Linked DNA regions of Homo sapiens: region 2 is linked to region 1. The links come from fine-mapping of genetic effects on gene expression. A gene starts in region 1. The other region holds a variant in brackets. All regions are shown on one strand. Distances are between the middles of the regions. Region 1 holds the start of NUMA1-AS1 (NUMA1 antisense RNA 1). Region 2 overlaps XNDC1N (XRCC1 N-terminal domain containing 1, N-terminal like).

Region 1 (5,367 bases):
GGGCAGCCTGGGCCTGGATTCCATGGCTTGACCCTGCCCCCTTCACAAACAGTTCACAACAGGAGCTGGCGGAGGCAAGCTGCAGCCGGGCTCATGCACCAAGACTGGTCACCGTTTAAGCAGCCAGCATTTAGCGAGGACCTCAGGCATTACCTGCTTAGTTTGCTCTCTCTGAAATACCTCTAGCTGCTCCACCTGTACATGGGGGAGGAGCAACAGAGACAGAGTGAGATGAGGCCAAAGAAGCACCAGCCCTGCTGCCAGGCTGACCTCACTGAGGCTCTGATACTTTCCCCTAAGGAGCTAGATTGACAGTAAGTTTAAAAATGCCAGTTAGGCTGATTCTAATCCCCAGTGGCTCCTGAGGCATCCAGTGCAGGTGTGCCTCTGAACAGGCTGGTGGTCATCACAACTTGACTCTCTAGTGACAGAGCCTTCAGGGGAGGGGAGGCCACTGACATTTTCTTTAGGATGACAGGGGCAACAGACTTGAACTCCACCAGCCACCTCTCCTTTTCTGCCACCCAGTGAATGAGGAAAGGCAAGACACTCCAGTGTAGGAGCTAGAGGCCCTGGACACAGAGGATCGATGTCCCCGCGCTCTCAGCTCCTGATCTTTGGGAGGGTGGTTGGGCTGAGTACCTTACCTGGGCAGTGAGTTTCTGCCTCTCTTCCTGGAACCGCTGCCTCTCCTCCAGGACCTTGACCTTGGCACCCTCATACTTGGCAGTCATCACCTCCAGCTCCCGGGCAGTGCTCTGTGCTTCTCGCTGCACCTCAGCCAGACGGGTCTCAGCATCAGCACGTACGGCTGCCAACTCTTGGACATACTTCTCCCGGGCCTGGTCCAACTCCACTTCCAGAAACTGCCGGCCAAGGTTGGCCCGCTCACCCAGCCCCCGGTTCTCCTCTGCCAGCAGGCCATGCGCCTTCTTCAGCATGCTCAGCTGCTCTGCATAGCTGGCCTTCTCTGCCCGCAGCTGCTGAGCTGTTCGCTCCTGCTCTGCCACCTTCTGCCGCAGAGGAATCAGCTCCCCAAGCTCCCGCTGGGCCCGCAGCAGCTCTGCCCGCAGTCCCCCAGCGGCCTGCTTGCTCTGCTCCAGCTCCTCACGGTGGCGTTTCTCGGCAGCGGCCTGCTCGGCCTGCAGCTGCTGGCAGAGGTGCTTAGCTGGCAGCAGCTCACTCACCAGGGCCTGTGTGCTGGTGTGCTCGAGCTGCAGGGTGGAGAGGGCCTGCTCTTTCTGGAAGAACTTCTCCTGCCACGCCTTCAATTCTTGGCCCAGCTCCTCCGCACGCTCAGCCTGTGAGGTCAGCTCCTGCCGCAGGTTCTCTGAAGCCACCCGCTGTTTCTCAGCCTCCTCCCGGAGGCTCTGCACCTCCTCCCGCAGAGCAGAGCTGCGTTCTGCAGCTCTGGCACTGTTGCTGGCTGTCTCTGCCTGCAGCAGGCGCAGCCTCTCCTCCAGCTTCTGGCTCTTCTCTGACTCGGCCATCACCAGCCGCTTCAACTCCTTGCTCTCCCCCTCCTTCTCCAGGACCTGGCGATTCAGGATGGACACCTCCTCCTCCAAGCTGCTGATGAGGCTATTTTTCCTCTCAGCCTCTTGCCGGCCCCGGGCCACCTGGGCCTTCCACTCATCTTCAGCCTTGCTGTGGTCTTGTACCTTGGTGCGGAAGGCAGCCAACTCCCGTTGGGCCGAGGCTAAGGCACTCTGACTGTGCCCTAGCTCCTGGGCCTTCTCCTCTAACTGGCCCTGCAGAGTCTCCAGAGCACTGTCCCGCTCAGCCCGGGAGGCCCGCTCAGCCTCGAGGCTGCGTTCCAGGCTGTCAGCCTGCTCCTGCTGCTTCTGGCATTGCTGTTCCAGCTTGCTCACCTCTGCCCGCAGTGCCTCCAGCTTGGGGCCTGTTGGCTCTGTCCTGCCAGCAGCCTCAGATTGGGCTCCTGAGCCAGATGCGTGCTCCTTTTCTTTCTTAGCCAGCTGTTCCTTCAGTTGCTTCACGGTTTGCCGAAGTTCCTCCAGCTCTTTTATCTGGGCTGCCTCCAGACCACGAAGCTTGGCCAACTCCTGGTCCTTGCCTTCCTTTTCCGTCAGGGCATGAGCCAGTGCCTCTTGCAGGGTAGCGAACTCCACACGCTGCTCGTTGAGGGCGTTCTGCAGCCGCATCTCAAGCTCTGCTCTGGCCGCCTTCTCCAGGGCAAGGTCAGCCTGGGCACGGCCCCGCTCCTGGGTCAGCCGCGCCACCTCCCTTTCCTGCTGCCCACGCTCCTCCTGCTGCTGCCCCTGGCTCTCCATCAGCGCGGCCCGCAGCCGTTCCAGCTCATTGCCCATCTGCTCTGCCTCCCGCTCCATAGCCTGCAGCGCTGCCTGTGTGCTGCAGAACTGGCGTCCCTGTTGCTCTTCCAGCCACTCGGGCTGTCTGTCTCCTGCCCTCGCAGGCTCCTTGACTAACTCCCGGGAGGCTGTTTCCTGCTGCTCACCTGCCTTGCGCACCAAGGTCTCCAAGCGGGCCACCTCTTTGCTGGTGGCAGCCATCTTTTCCTGCAGAGTGGAGAGGTCATCTGCAAGCTTCTGGGCCCTGACTTCCTTCTCTTGGACCTGCTGGAGTGCTCTGGCCAGGTTGGCATGGAGCTCAGCTAGTTCGTTCTGCTGCCGGCTTATCTGGAGCTCGCTGTGGGATTCTATGCCTGCCACCTTCTCCTTTGCCTCCTGCAGCTCCTGGCGGGCCTTCTCACATTCCTCCTTCAAAGTCATCAGCTGTTCCTGGAACATGGCGCCATACTGTGCCTCCTCTTGCTGGCTATCCTCATACCGCTCACGCCAGGCAGCTACTTCTTTGACGAGCTGCTCACACTCACTCTCAGCTGTGTGCTGGGCAGCCATGGCCTCTGCCAGCTCCCGCCGCAGGACTTCAGTCTCAGCCTGATGGGCCTCCCCAAGCTGCTGTAATCGAGCCTCCAGCCCCTTGCGCCCAGCCCTCTCTTCTTCCAGCTCCTTTCGTTCCCGCTTATGCTGCTCCACCAGGCTTCGGGTCTCTGCCTTCAGCTCAGAGATACAACGCTGCTGCTCTTCCAGGGCATCTGCAGCCCTGCGCTTCTCCTCTTCAAGGCTGCCCTTGGTGACCTTCAAGGACTCTTTGAGGGCCTGGAGCTGCTCCTGGAGCTGGTCCTTCTCCTGGGCCACCCTTTCTTTCTCAGTTGCTTTTTGCTGCTCAGACCGCAGCTGCAACTCTAGCTCTGCAACCTGGGCCTGGGCCTCATGCTGTTCCTGGCGGGCTGTCTCAACACAGGCCTGGAGTTCCTCCACCTTCCGGCTCAGCTCTGCCTTCTCCCGCTGGGCCTGTGTCACTGAGGTCTGGGCACTGTCCCGGGCTTCATTAGCCACCTGAAGTTGCTGCTGCAGAATCTCCAGCTTGGCAGCCTTCTCCTTCTCCAGTGCCTCCAGCTGCTTGAGAGCCGCATCCCGCTCCCTTAAGGAGGCCTCTCGCTCCTCTGCAGCAGTGGCCAGTTGCTGGGCATGGTCCTGCCTAGTTGCCTCCTGCTTCTCCGCTACCTCCTTCAACTGCTGCTCCTTCTGCTTCAGGCTACTGCTTAGCTGCTCCACCTGGTGGCGGAGGCCCTGGGAGGCCTGTTCTTGCTGTTGGAGGGTCTGTGCTAGCTGGGCCTGCTTCTCTTTGGCCTGCTGCTTCAGGCCAGCCAGTTCTTGATCCTGTTGCTGGATGGTGGCATTGAGTGTGGTGAGCTCAGAGGTCAGAGAGGCCACCTGGGCAGTCAACCGGGCCCCATGAGCCTGGGAGGCCTGCTCCAGCTCTTCCTTGGCCTGGCTGAGGTTGGAGATGGAGCTCTGCAGGTCAGTGATCAGGCTAGACAGCTGCTGCTTTTCTTCTTCGAAGTGGCCCCGCTCAGCAAGCAGCTTGGCTTCCTGCTGGCCTCGCTCAGTCTCCAGCATCTCTACCCTGGCTTGGAGCTGTGTGTTGTTTGCAGCAAGAGTGGCTGCCTCTTGCTTCAAGGTTTCCAGCTGGTGGTATAAAGAGACAAACTGGGATCAGCATGACTCCTCAGTCATCAAGACTCCTCTGGAAATGGAGGAACACCAGGAACCCAAATGTACTGAATGTGAGTCCACACCAACCAGCAGCACACAGGTCTTTCTGTGCATTCCTACCTGCAAGACATCACCCAGCACCTCGCCCTTCTCCTGGGGTGGGTTATCCTGCAGCTGGGACAAGTGTTCTTCCAGCTGTGAAAGTTTTCCCTGAAGGATTTCGTTCTTCTCTTCAAGGCATTTCTGGGAGTAAATGAGACCCATGTGAACAGAGAGGGGGAACAGGCACCAGATTACCACACAAGCCCTCATAAACATCAGCAAACATGGGGCCCATCATCTTGTTACCAAGATCTCCTTTTGCCCTGGCCTAGAAAAAAGCAGAAACCATGGAACTGGGAGCATGAGGGACCTGATTCTCTAGACCTAGTTCTAAGGCACAATAAAGTCATAATGTAACCTGCTTACTACTTCCCCAAGGCTGCTGAGTTTACTTCAAATTTCCTTACCGTATACCCTTCCTCAGATAAGTCTTGAGTCCTAGATTATCCAAATCACCACCAGCTGCCCACCATCCTCTGGGCAGCAATACCACTGGCAGCAGCTGCAGCAACCCCCAGTCCCAAACCCACTTCTTCACCACTGTTCACTAAGCACCTACAATAGGCTATGCTGGGTTCATCCCTAATTTTTTTTTTTTTTTTTTTTTTTTTGAGACAGAGTCTCGCTCTATCGCCTAGGCTGGAGTGCAGTGGCGAGATCTTGGCTTACTGCAACCTCCACCTCCCAGATTCGAGAGCTTCTTCTGTCTCAGCCTCCCGAGTAGCTGGGACTACAGGCATGCATCACCACACCCAGCTTATGTGGGAGGCAGCTACTACCATTCCTCTTACAGAGCAAGAACCTGAAGCAGATGCTAAGTGCCTTGATCAAGGGCTACATGGTTATTAGTAAGTGGCCAAATTGGGTTCTTACCAATAGTAACAATCACAACTGGTTCACTGAGAGCTTACTTTACACTACACGATGTGTGAAGTGCTTTACATACGTTTTCTCATAATAGGTGATGAGGCAGCTACTCGTTACTACTCCCATTTTAGGGAAAGGATGCTTAGAAAAACAGACTGATTAACTTGTCCAAGATCCACATCTTGTGAACAGCAGAGATAGGATTGAAAGGTGTACTATAAAGTGAGGGCATTGACTGGGGAAAAAAAAAATAAGTTAAAAAAAAAAGGTGTACTAGACTGAAGCCCACAATCTTTCAATTACAGCACACTATTGAACCTTGAAGAGAAAGCAACTTAATACCCAAAGGCCCAGAAGA
Region 2 (5,367 bases), 120 kb before region 1:
TTTCATATACACGAAGTCCTCACTTCGTTTTGGAATTCCCTGAAAACTGACTTTATGGAAACAATGTACAGGAGGTCCTCCAACACCATTGGTTGTTCAAAGTTATGTAGTTATACTGTTGATGAAAAATAAGTGGTTTCACTATACATAATTTTGCTTCAAGGTGACGTTTCCAAGAGACTTTCAAAGATGTTAAGTGAGGACATACTGTACATCAAATTCATATCCTCTTCCACAGTTCATGTGGAATTTCTTTATAAACTGCTTCTATAGAATCTATTTAGGCAGGTTATGTAGAGAGATCCATGTCGCCATTCTTCAATCTTGGCTTTGAGTCAAATCACCTGGGGAGTTAAAAATGATGAGGCCTGGGTCTCAATACCTGAGATTCTGATTTCCTTGCACCTGTGTGAGTGTGTGGATTTTTTTTTTTTTTCTTTTAAAGCACCAGAGGTGGTTCCAATAATGAAGTTTTTAGAGGCATCAAGCTCCAAAGAGTAAGAGCAGAAATTAATTGTAGTATGATTTCTTCAAATATTATCTTCAAATGCATTGTCCAGCAACACCATACAAATATTTATTATGTTGTTTTTTCTTACCATTTCGCATTTTCTATTTCTTTCCCTTTTTTTTTGAGTCAGAGTTTCACTCTTGTTGCCCAGGCTGGAGTTCAATGGCACGGTCTCGGCTCACTGCAACTTCTGCCTCCCCTATTCAAGCAATTCTCCTGTCTCAGCCTTCCAAGTAGCTGGGATTACAGGCATGCGCTACCATGCCTGGCTATTTTTTTTTTTTTTTTTTTTTTTGTATTGTTAATAGAGACAGTGTTTCTCCATTTTGGTCAGGCTGGTCTTGAACTCCCGACCTCAGGTGATCCGCCCGCTTCCGCCCCCCAAACTGCTGGGATTACAGGCATGCGCGACCGCGCCCAGCCACCACTTAGCATTTACATTTTACATTTGTTGAAGTTCTACATTTATACACACATTGATTGCTGCTTTGTTATACACTTGCATATACATAAGATGGGAAACAGAAAAGAATAAAATGGGCACAGTATCCCTGAAGTTTCACATTCCGAGACATTTTAAAAATATTTGCTCTTCAGAAATTTGTTTCAATGAAGAAACTGTGGTATACACACCCAATGAAGTATTATGCAACCTAAAAAGGAAGAAACTCCTCTCCACTGCAGACAAAATGGATGAGACTGCAGATCTGTACATTAAATGAAAGAAGCCAGGCACAGAATGACAAATATTTCATGTCCTCACTTCTATGTAGGAAGAAAAAAGGAAACCATGGCCAGGTGTGGTGGCTCAGGCCTGTAATCCCAGCACTCTAAGAGGCCGAGTCACACAGATCACTTGAGTCCAGGAGTTCGAGACCCGCCTGGCCAACATGATGAAACCCCGTCTCCACGGTAAACACAAAAAATGAGTCGGGCGTGGTGACCTGTGCCTGTAGTCTCAGCTACTCGGAGGGCTGAGGCCCAAGAAGCGCTTGAACTCAGGAGGCGGAGCTTGCAGTGAGCCCGGACTGTGCCTGTGTACACCAACCTGGGCAACAGAAAGAGACTCCATCACACACCTGCACACAAAAGGAATCTCAAGAAGGTGGAAAGTATAAAGATGGTTAGCAGACGCTAGGAAGAAAAGGGGTGAGATAGGGAATGAAGAAAAGTGGATAATTGAGTCCCAAAATACAGAAAGATGGAATAAGTGAGTTCTAGTGTTTGATAGTACAGTATGAAAATTTTAGTTCACAAGAATTGCTTGCATATTTCCAGATGCTTTGGTAAGAAGCTTCCTAACTTTCTCATTATGCTGGTTTTTAAGCTCTTCTGTTTCTGCTCTTGAAATCATGCTGGTTTTTTGTTTTTTGTTTTGAGATGGAGTTTCACTCTTGTTGCCCAGGCTGGAGTGTCATGGTGCAATCTTGGCTCACCGCAACCTCTGCCTCCTGGGTTCAAGCGATTCTCCTGCCTCCACCTCCCGAGTAGCTGGGATTACAGGCATGCGCCAGCACGCCCAGCTAATGTTGT[A/G]TTTCTGGTAGAGACGGGGGTTTCTCCCTGTCGGTCAGGCTGGTCTTCAACTCCTGACCTCACGTGATCCACCCGCCTCGGCCTCCCAAAGGGCTGGGATTACAGGCGTGAGCGACTGCGGCCGGCCCATGCTGTATCCTTATCTGTTGTCAGTTGTTGTTTGTTTGTTTTGGAGCCCAGAAATAACTTCTCACCTTTATGTTCACATGATTTTTCACGAGTGCTAAGAAAGCTCATTGGTGGAACAGCAGCCTTTTCAAGAAATGGTGTTGGAGAAACTTGATTTCCACATACAGAAGAATGAAGGTGGACCCTATGTCACACCAGGTGCAAAAATTAACAAAAACTGGATCAGAGACCTCACCCCAAGCGCTAAAAGTATGACACGCCTAAAAGAAAACATTGGCCACGCTTTCATGACATCAGATTGGGCAATGTTCTCTGGGATATGACACCAAAAGCATAGGCAACAAAAGAAAATTAGATTCCTTGGATTACATATAAATGACAGACACTTTTGTGCAGCAAAAAACATGGCGAACTGAGTGAAAACATAACCCATGGATTAGGAAATATATTTGCAAAGCATATATCTGAAAAGAGGCTGACAGCCATCATATATAAAGAACAGCTAGAACTAAACAACAAGAAACCCAAAGCATCCCATCAACAATGGTCAGAAGACGCGAGTAGACGTGTCCCTAAAGAAGATATCACAATGGCCAATAAGCATCTAAGGTGATGTTCAAAATCACTCATCATAGGGAAGCACAAATCAAACCAAGAATGTGATACCACAGATTAGGATGGATGTGATAAACAAACAGGCATTGGTGAGACTAGAGAGAAGTAGGAATGCTCGATTCTGATCGGAGGGAATGTAAAACCGTGAAGGAGTGGGGGAAAATAGTATGGCGTGTACTGGAAAAATTAGAAACAGAATGATCAGATGTTCCCGCAGTTGCATTTGTGGGTACCTACCAAAAAGAATTAGAAGCCAGGAGTGGAAGACAGATTTGTGTACACCCATATTCATAGCAGCATTATTCACAACAGCCAAAATGTGGAAGCAACCCAAGGGTTCGTGGACAGATGAATGAAAAAGCACACTGCAGTTCTTTCATACAATGGAAGACCATTCAGCCTTCAAAAGGCAGGCACTTCTGGCCGGTGCGGTGGCTCACGCCTGTAATCGCAGCGTCTTGGAAGACCGAGGTGGGCGGATCACCTGAGGTCAGGAATTCAAGACCAGCCTGGCCATCTTGGTGAAACCCTGTCTCTACTGAAAATGCAAAAAATGAAACGAGCGTGGTGGCGTGTGCCTATAGTCCCAACTACTCAAGAGGCTGAGGCACAAGAATCGCTGGAACCCAGGAGGCGGAGGTTGGAGTGAGCCCCGATTGTGCCACTGCACTCCAGCCTGTGCGACAGAGTGAGACTCCATGAAAACGCAAAGCAAAACAAAATAAAACCAAATGAAAAAAAAAACAACAAAAACAAACAGGCACTTCTGACGCAGGCCGCAACATGGATGAACCTTGAAGACATTATCGTCAGTGAAATAAATAAATCCCAAAAGGATAAACATGCCCAGTCTCAGTGGCTCGCACATGTAACCCCAGCACTTTGGGAGGCTGAGGCAGGCGGATCACTTAAGCTCAGGAGTTCGAGAACAGCCTGGCCAATATGGTGAAAGCTCGTCTCTATTAAAAATACAAAAATTAGCTGGGCGTGATAGCGCACGCCTGTAATCCCAGCTACTCGGGAGGCTGAGACACAAGAATCGCTTGAACCCAGGATGTGGAGATTGCAGTGAGGCGACATCACGCCACTGCACTCCAGCCGGGGTGACAGAGAAAGACTCTGTTTCCAAAACAAAACAATTAAATACAGTATGATTCCATTTATCTATTAAGTGTCTAGAGTAGTTAAACTCATAGAGTTACAAACTAGAAAGGTGGCCCCCAGGGGTGGGCGAGAAAGAGGAGTGGAGAGCTTGGTGAATGGGTGCAATTTCCATTTTGAAAGATAAAACTGTTCTGGAGACGATGACGGTGATGGTTGCTAAACAATGTGAACGTACTTAATGTCATGAAACTGTAAACTGAAAAAGCATGGAAACTGTAAATGTTTATACTGGCCATTCTATATGAAGTAATATATATTTATAATTTTTAATATTTATATGTGGTATATTTTCCCATAATAAAAGATGAAAATTAAAGCAGTTGGATGTTTAAAAAGAAAAGAAAGAAGGGAAGAATACACACTAGCTTTCTCCTGATTAGAGGAAGAGCCCCAAATCTTCTATGGACACTCACTTTTCTCTTCTTCTTCTTGCATTATTATACGGACATCCTTAGAGGTTGGGGAACTTGGGTGACTTTGGCTAAGAAGGAGCTCTGTGCCTTGAGCCCCCCAGGCCACAGAATAGTAAATAGTCAGTCTGTGCCTCCAGCCCTGCAGTGTGGGGTTCCAGTCCTGTGGGCTCCACTCCCGTCACCTGTATCACCCTGTCTTCTTGCCAGCCTTGAAGACGGAGTCTGAGCCTCCATGGTGCACCACACAGGGAGGACAGTGGACCTGTTCTCCGTGGTCATGGCCCAGCAGAGGGGAAGGGCAGTTCAGTGAGTGTAGGGAAAAGAAAGAGATCAGACTCTTACTGTGTCTATGTAGAAAGGAAAGACATAAAAGACTCCATTTGGAGAAAGACCTGAACTTTCAACAATTGCTTTGCTGAGATGTTGTTAATGTGTAGATTTGCCCCAGACACTTTGACCCAACCTGAAGCTCACAAAAACATGTGTTGTATGAAATCAAGGTTTAAGGGATCTAGGGCTGCGCAGGACGTGCCTTGTTAACAAGATGTTTCCAAGCAGTATACTTGGTAAAAGTCATCGCCATTCTCTATTCTCAATAAACCAGGGGCACGATACACTGTGGAAAGCCGCAGGGAGCCCTGCCCTTGAAAGCGGCATATTGTCCAAGTTTTCTCCCCATGTGATAGTCTGAAAAGTGGCCTCGTGGGAGGAGAAAGACCTGACCGTCGCCGAGCCCGACACCCGTAAAGGGTCTGTGCTGAGGTGGATTAGTCAAAGAGGAAAGCCTCTTGCAGTTGAGAGAGAGGAAGGCCCCTGTCTCCTGCCTGCCCCTGGGAAATGAATGTCTCGGTATAAAACCCGATTGTACATTTGTTCAATTCTGAGATGGGGGAAAAACCGCCCTATGGTGGGAGGCGAGACAAGTTTGCAGCAATGCTGCCTTGTTATTCTTTACTCCACTGAGATGTTTGGGTGGAGAGAAACCTAAATCTGGCTGATGTG

The links. PIP is the estimated chance that this variant, and not a neighbour inherited with it, causes the effect. A credible set is the group of variants that fine-mapping cannot tell apart.
Region 2: its variant is the best candidate, but not a certain one, in a credible set for the expression of NUMA1-AS1 in whole blood (INTERVAL, PIP 0.64).

The regions. Positions count from the first base shown.
Region 1 is chr11:72,012,248-72,017,614 of GRCh38, forward strand. NUMA1-AS1 (NUMA1 antisense RNA 1) reads left to right here and starts at 2,044. Exons shown (of 4, transcript NR_104178.2): 1 at 2,044-4,640; 2 at 5,112-5,367. NUMA1 (nuclear mitotic apparatus protein 1) reads right to left here. Exons shown (of 27, transcript NM_006185.4): 14 at 4,161-4,283; 15 at 648-4,013; 16 at 154-195. RefSeq lists an enhancer at 2,698-3,445.
Region 2 is chr11:71,894,693-71,900,059 of GRCh38, forward strand. All of the region lies in intron 5 of XNDC1N (XRCC1 N-terminal domain containing 1, N-terminal like), which reads right to left. The region is part of intron 6 of XNDC1N-ZNF705EP-ALG1L9P (XNDC1N-ZNF705EP-ALG1L9P readthrough); the gene reads right to left. Among named protein-coding and RNA genes, the nearest start is that of DEFB131B, 19 kb to the left of the region's middle. The variant A/G (reference allele first, on the strand shown) is at 2,045.